2 linked regions of the Homo sapiens genome follow. The protein of the gene in region 1 interacts with the protein of each later gene in a pairwise test. Each region holds a gene or a part of one and is shown on either strand. Other genes may lie near its edges. The genes, in order: ZBTB5 and PTPN5.

Region 1 (3,812 bases):
CATGGGAGCCAGGGGCAGAGGAGGGCCCACCTGCAGGCCCAGCCTCTGGACTCAACAAATAGGGGGCCTCACTCTCCAGCCTGCAGTCACTAGTGGTGTTTGGAATATTATCATCATTGTTCTGATTTGCAGTAAAGTTATTTCCTCTGCTCTTGTTAAGAAAATTCGAAATACTAAAAGTGGACTTATGCTCTAGGTTATTTGTGACTTCCAAAATATGGATATCACCTACCCTGTCTGTGCTAGACTGGGGATCTGAAAAACTCCGATCACTGCTTTCAGGGCTGAGGTCTATCTTCTCGGCACTGACCACAACTCCTTCCACTTCCACAGACTCGCTGCCTTCTGCTTGTGAGGTCACATCGCTCACTTCATCCTGAGGCTCAGGTGAGCTCAGGGGCTCAGATTTAACCACCACTCTCATGTGCTCCTTCTCACCAAGGCCAACCTCAGGGTTTTCACACTGAAAACTACTTTTCTCAGGTGCAGCTTCCTGATCAAAACTAGTCTCAACCTGAGTTGCACGAGAGGCCATGGACAACTGTGCCATGTTGCCAGCACTGTTATCAGACTGGCTGGGCACCTGGGCATCTTCTTGAGTGCCAAAAGACTGATCAAACATGATCGCACTATCTTCCTGGTTATCAGTCATTCCATCAGCTTTAGGATTATCCACAATTTTCAGAGAATCTGGTGAAAAGAACTCCTCCCGAGAATGAACCCCTGAAGGCCCATTCTCCGGTGTAACATCTGAAATGGCAGACTCATCTATGGAGGGTCGGAGGCGCTGCCTGGCCCGCTCCTCTGCAGACTGCTTGCGCTTATGAAGGCGTCTCATGGGGAAGGGCGTGCGCTGATCCAGGTTACTGCGCATGGAAGAGCTCATGGGGGCTGGCTGCTCCTCGCCATTCTGGCTGGAATTGAGGGCTGAGCTCACGATGCTTAGTCCCAGCTGCTGTAGCATAAAGGAGCGCTGCATGCGGGCGCTCTGCTCCTGAACGCGCTCACTGGGGGGAGACATGGGCAGCGTCCTTGTCGTTAAGTAATGTTTACATGCCTTAACAACAGAGTTCAAATGCAGGTGAGAGGCTGCCAATAAGACATCCATTACATTGCTCTCCCCCAGCATGAGGGTGGAGGTATACATCATGTCAATCAGTGCAGCAAAGGCCTCTGCTGTCACCACCTCGCTATCCAGCTGGATCATGTTCATGGTCTGATCTCCTTCTGCCACTGAGAACAGGGCTCGGAAATGCGTGCTGCATGCTGCCAGCACGGAGCGGTGGGCTTTAAAGTGTCTATTCCCCACTACAATGACACAATCACAGAGCTGGCCATGAAGTCTCTGGTAGTTCAGCTGCTGGAAGATTTGTTCAAAGTGACCAGGAAAATCCATGATCCTACAGAAAAACAAAGAAAGAAAATGTTAAGACCTAGAAAAGCTTCAAAGTCAGAACACAAAGGGTATGATGAAAAGAGTGGAATGGATGGCCAAGCTTGGACCTTTGAAGCCCGTGATATCTCTGATAATGGGCACATACACTAAGAGCTTGTCATATAAGAAGCAAATGGCAATTCAGCCATCAGCCCAGGAGGCATGCACACATGTGGGCCTAGCTACCGACAGGCTCCCCTTTACTCTTCATATGAGCCATGTATAACACTAAGGGTCTAAATTAGTAAAGACCAGTGTGTGAGTGATGGCATATCTATCCCACAGAAGTTTGTTAGAATTCTGCATTCCCTAAGGATGAGGAATGAATACCAAGAAATTCCAAAGTCTTAGGAACCCTAAATAAGTGAAAAGGGCAAATCAATATTAGTGTGGAAGATTTCCAGTTATAGATGGTAGCAGATTGCACACACGCATTTGCCCCGTGCTTTTTCCTGAAACCCCACTAAAATGACACGAAGCCCGGCATGGAGGCTCATGCCTGTAATCCCAGCACTTTGGGAGGCTGAGACGGGCAGATCACCTGAGGTCAGGAGTTCAAGACGAGCCTGACCAACATGATGAAACCCTGTCTCTACTAAAAATACAAAAAATTAGCCAGGCATGGTGGTGCATGCTTGTAATCCCAGGTACTCGGGAGGCTGAGGAGGCGGAGGTTGCAGTGAGCTGAGATCACACCACTGCACTCCCAGCCTGGGCGACAGAGTGAGACTTCATCTCAAAGGAAAAAAAAAAAAAACACTAAAGTTTTTGTTTAAACTTTAAAGGTGTAAACCCACAAGGAAAAAGAGAATGAGAAGGCCTTCAATAGCATTTTGGAAGCTGGGGAGAGGTAAATGAGTGCTAACTGACTCAGCACACCCCAAAAGCGAAAATCCTAAACTGGGCAGCGGATAAAACAACCTAACATATATAAATCTCATTCCCAAAGGCCAAGGAACTGGTTGCCCTTGCCAGGGGAAATGGAATGAAGGTGTGGCTAAGGCAGGAGGCCTGGCTGAAAATCTATCCAATTAAAAAAAACAAAAACAAAAAAACACCAGGATGTGGTGGCGCATGCCTGTAATCCTATAGCACTTTTGGAGGCTGAGGTGGGAGGATTGCCTGAGCTTAGGAGTTTGAGACAAGCCTGGGCAACAAGGTGAAACCCTGTCTCTACCAAAAATACAAAAAATTAGCCGGGCATGCTGGTATGTGCCTTCAGCTACTCAGGAGGCTGAAGGGGGAGGATCACTTGAGCCTGGGAGGCAGAGGCTGCAGTGAGCAGAGATCGCACTGCTGCACTCCAACCTGGGTGACAGAGTGAAACCTGTCTCAAAAAAAAATTAGCCGAGCATGGTGGCGTGCACCTGTGGTCCCAGCTACTTGGGAGGCTGAGGTGGGAGGATCACTTGAGCCTGGGAAGTCAAGGCTTCTGTGAACTGTCACTGGGCCACTGCACTCCAGCCTAAGCAACAGAGCAAGGCCCTGTCTCAGAAAATAAAATAAAAATAAGTGAATGAATAAGAGAAGGAATTAATCAGGTCCAATATCTTGACTACAGAAAGAGAAAAGGAAGAATACAGAGGGTGAAAATGATGTAAGAAATGGTTTTTTGTTTTGTTTTTGAGACAGAGTTTCGCTCTGTTCCCCCAGGCTGGAGTACAGTGGCGCAATGTCGGCTCACTGCAACCTCCGCCTCCCGGGTTCAAGTGATTCTCCTGCCTCAGCCTCCTGACGAGCTGGGATTATAGGTGCACGCCACCACACCCGGCTAATTTTTGTATTTTTAGTAGAGACAGGGGTTTTACCTTGTTGGTCAGGCTGGTTTTGAACTCCTGACCTCAGGTGATCCGCCCACCCTGGCATCCCAAAGTGCTGGGATTACAGGCATGAGCCACTGCGCCCGGCCAAGAAATGGTATTTTTTAAATTTTGAGAACTGAAGAAATTTGCTTATTAAGACTAAAAAGGCCCAACAAGTACTCAAAATATGAAGATACAAATCCCCACACTAGGCTGACATCAGGAATAAAATTGGCATTCGTCTTTGCCACAGCAGCACTAAAAGCTAGAAGATGACAGTTCCTTCAAAATTATCCAAGAAAATGATTTCCAACTTAGAATGCCACACCCAGCTAAACTATTAATCAATTAGGATAAACTAAGGCATTTTCAGATAAGAACCCAAAGGTTTATCCTTTCTCAGGAGGCGACTAAGATTGTAGGAAACAGGAGACCCACCAGAGAAGACAGGCAAAGGGAATCCCAAGGATGATGATGAAGCTCCAGATGACAACTAGGCAGCAGGCCTGGAGAGCAAAAGCAGTCAGACTGGAGCAGGAAGGACTCCAAGGAGTGGGTCTCCAAGGGGGGTGGGA
Region 2 (3,812 bases), on another chromosome or scaffold:
TGGACCTTAGAGGTTCAGGAGCCTCCATGCAGGGCCAGGTTGAGGCTGCAGGTGAGCTCTGCTGGGGGAACACGGGGGAAGGGGGCCGGCTCCATACTCAGCCTGCTCCCCTGTGCCCCAGCTTGCCTGTGGGGTGCTCTGGTTCAGCGGTTATGGCCACATCTGGTCACAGAACGCCACAAACCTCGTCTCCTCTTTGCTGACGCTCCTGAAACAGCTGGAACCCACGGTAAGTAAGCTTTGGGGAGTCCTAGGGTAGCAGGGATCTGTTGGGGGCCTCTAGTCCCACCCTCCCCAACCTCCAGATTGGGCTTCTCTGAGTTCAGAAGATACTTCCAAGCCCCTGAAGTTCTTCTGCCTGCTCCCCATCCCAGACCTGGGACGTGATTTTCAGAATCTTGGTTTTGTCATCATTGCAAGAGCTGAGAACTCTGCCCCCACCACCACCCTGACCTGTTTATCTGATGTTCCCCAGGCCTGGCTTGACTCTGGGACGTGGGGAGTCCCCAGTCTGCTGCTGGTCTTTCTGTCCGTGGGCCTGGTCCTCGTTACCACCCTGGTAAGGCGCCTCCTGACCCCAACCTCAAGGCTGTCCTCCTCTGACCTTGAGGCCTGGATTTCTACCAGCTCCCATCTGACTTATAGGCTGGACATTCTGGGTGGGGCAAGGAGGGATACCTATCTCTTTGCACAAGTGTGCCAGCCTGGGGCAAGAGCCTCCTTCTTTCCGAAAATTGGTTTGCAGTGATCTGGGCTAAGGAAAGGGGATGAGACAGGGAGAAGACTGGTGTAGGAACTCCCAAGCCCCACTGAGAAGGCCTGAAGCCACAAGAAACAGAGAGCTGGGAGAGGGAGGGGCAGGGAAGGAGAGTGGGCATGGAGCCTCCCATCGAGGCCAGGGGCAGTGCCTTGTGGACAACTCCCAGGAGAGCAGAGCTGCTCTAGACACACTGAGGGAGTGGGGGGGCGTCAATCCCATGGGCACTCCAGGAACACGGGGGGCAGCCAGCGTGGTCCGAAATCTGTGATGCTGTACACCCCAACCAGGTGTGGCACCTCCTGAGGACACCCCCAGAGCCACCCACCCCACTGCCCCCTGAGGACAGGCGCCAGTCAGTGAGCCGCCAGCCCTCCTTCACCTACTCAGAGTGGATGGAGGAGAAGATCGAGGATGACTTCCTGGACCTCGACCCGGTGCCCGAGACTCCTGTGTTTGATTGTGTGATGGACATCAAGCCTGAGGCTGACCCCACCTCACTCACCGTCAAGTCCATGGGTCTGCAGGAGAGGTGGGAGGGGTGGAGGAGGGGTGGGCTCCACGGGCCCTTGAGCTCTTAGCTCCTGATCAGAAGAGTGGATGCCTGACTCTGACTCCTGGTGCCCAGGGCAGAGCTGGCCTTATAGCTTAGCCAGTGTAGACATGTGCTATCCAGGTCATTCATAGAGATCAAAGTGCCCCAAGATGAATGCTGAGAAATACTGTTACTGCACACGCACACATAGGTGTACACATGTTCACACACACTCTCCCATGCTCAAGTAAGTTTGGGTGGTTTTCTTTGCTGCAGGACTTGTCAGGGCCTTTAACATGCTTATGTTCATTGTAAATCAGCAAGGGGGCAGTATGTGGCATTTCCCAAAGTCACTTGACCACGGAACTCTATTTTTTTGTTTTACTTTTATTTTGGATTGAGGGGGTGCATGTGCAGTGTTGTTACCTGAGCATATTGCATAATGCCGAGGTTTGGGGTACAAATGATCCCATCACCCAGGTACTGAGCGTAGTGCCCAGCAGTTAGTTTTTCATCCCTTGCCCGCCTCTCTCCCTCCCTCCTCTAGTAGTCCCCAGTTTCTATTGTTGCCATCTTTATGTACCTGGGTACCCAATTAGAACCTGTTTTTATAGGGTAGCTCATAGTGTTCCACAGAGCACACTTTGAGAAGTGTAGACACCCTCGTTTCAGAGTCTAGGTGGGTGAGCCAGATCACACCAAATTTGAGTTACCCATGTGATGTCACAGAAAGAACACTGGGTGTGGAGTCAGGAAACCTAGCTTTTTATTTCAGCTCTGCCACCCCCTTACTGGGAGAGCCTGGACAACTCTTGGCCCTTCATGGGGACTCAGTTTCTCTTTCTATGTAATGAAGCCCCATCCTGTCCTGTGTCTGAGACTCTGAGTATAGTAGAGTTTGCCCATTGTAGACATCCTTGCGGCCACCGTGCTGCTCCTGGGACTCCCTCCTTCCTGACAGCGGGGGTCCTGGCCTCTCCTGGACAATATGTCCTTGACTCACCAGCAGCCTCATCCCAGGGCTGTTGGGCCCGGGACTGCAGTGGGGAGGGTCTGGAGCCATCCTCTCGGGCCCAAGCCCCGCTTCTGTGCTTCAGGCAGGTGTCCCCTCTCTGAGCTTCCTGGGGACCACAGGGTAGAACTTCCTCCAACGGTGATGGAGGAGAGTCCAGGGTAAGGCCATGTTGGGGTAGCTTTGGATGGAACTTTTAGAACTGGAGCCCCAAATCCCCACTAAGTTAACATCTCCACTGCAGGAGGCAGGAGATAGGGAGTCAGGCCAATGCCTCAGGGCTGAGATTCACGCTTCTTTGTCAGGGGGTCTTGTCACACTCCCACTCCTCTTCCTCAACCCCACCCTGTTCCCAGCTGATCTCTCCCTCCCTCATTTTCCCAGCCCTGGAGACCCCAGCTCATGCCCGTCCCTCTGCCCCTGAGGCTCACACTCCCTTTCCTGGTCCTTCCAGGAGGGGTTCCAATGTCTCCCTGACCCTGGACATGTGCACTCCGGGCTGCAACGAGGAGGGCTTTGGCTATCTCATGTCCCCACGTGAGGAGTCCGCCCGCGAGTACCTGCTCAGCGCCTCCCGTGTCCTCCAAGCAGAAGAGCTTCATGAAAAGGCCCTGGACCCTTTCCTGCTGCAGGCGGAATTCTTTGTGAGTTCCCTTGAGCCGGTCGCCCCACTGTGTGCAGACCCATGTCAATCATCCACCTGCCCAGGTGGTGGAGCGTGGTGCCTGGAACTCAGCATCTGCAGTAGATTAGTATCACTTTATTATCAGCTCTCCCACCATCTTGGGCAAGCTGCTTTCCCTCTGAGCTTCAGTTTCCTCATCTGGAAAATGGGGATGAAAATAATAGAATTGTTGCAAAGATTAAAGAGACTTATAACATGTGCAGAGCACCCAGCCAGGTGATGGAGGTACAGTGACAATGCTAAGTCTTTATTGCCCAGTGCTGTGCTCTGAAAGCCACAGAGAACCTTCACTTCTAACTCTTCTGTTTTCCCACTTTCCTCCTGCCGAGCATTGTTCTTCTGCCTTTGAAATCTCTCTAGTGGCCTCCCCTCGTTACCACCCCTGGGGCCCTAGCTTAGGTCCTAATCACCTCCACCCTGGCTTCTGCAGCAGCCTCCAGCTGCCTCCTATTGGACTTTGAGGGGCTCAATAAATGGCACCCCTGTTTACCTGCCTGAGTGCTCAGCCAGTTAAGAGCTAAGGCATAGGAGATTACAATATCACCTTTGTTGTCAATAAAATACAGGTTGGAAATGTGGCTTAGCAGGGTACAGCAAGAGTGAGCCTCCCGATACTGAGACCCAGAATTACATGCACTTTCCACCCTCCACAGGGGTGCCGGCACATCTCGGACCTTGCCGCATGGGGGCACCCCTATAATTCTTTCCTGGCAGGAGGGCCCTGAGAGGAGGAGGAAGGAAGGGGCTGAGGCTCCAAAGCTCCATTCCTCAACCAAATTCACCAAACAGGTAACTCCTCACTTCTGTGAGCAGGAAAAGGCAA

What was found.
Region 2: the proteins of ZBTB5 (region 1) and PTPN5 interact in a two-hybrid assay, tested with the Homo sapiens proteins (one large-scale study listed by BioGRID and IntAct).

The regions. Positions count from the first base shown.
Region 1 is NC_000009.12:37,441,156-37,444,967, forward strand, and holds part of ZBTB5 (zinc finger and BTB domain-containing protein 5), read right to left. Parts: intron 1,401-3,812; 5' UTR 1,397-1,400; coding exon 1-1,396. UniProt on the Homo sapiens protein: May be involved in transcriptional regulation.
Region 2 is NC_000011.10:18,739,739-18,743,550, reverse strand, and holds part of PTPN5 (tyrosine-protein phosphatase non-receptor type 5), read left to right. Parts: intron 1-121; coding exon 122-229; intron 230-475; coding exon 476-559; intron 560-1,047; coding exon 1,048-1,289; intron 1,290-1,663; exon of another isoform or gene 1,664-2,758; coding exon 2,759-2,948; exon of another isoform or gene 2,949-3,127; intron 3,128-3,812. UniProt on the Homo sapiens protein: May regulate the activity of several effector molecules involved in synaptic plasticity and neuronal cell survival, including MAPKs, Src family kinases and NMDA receptors.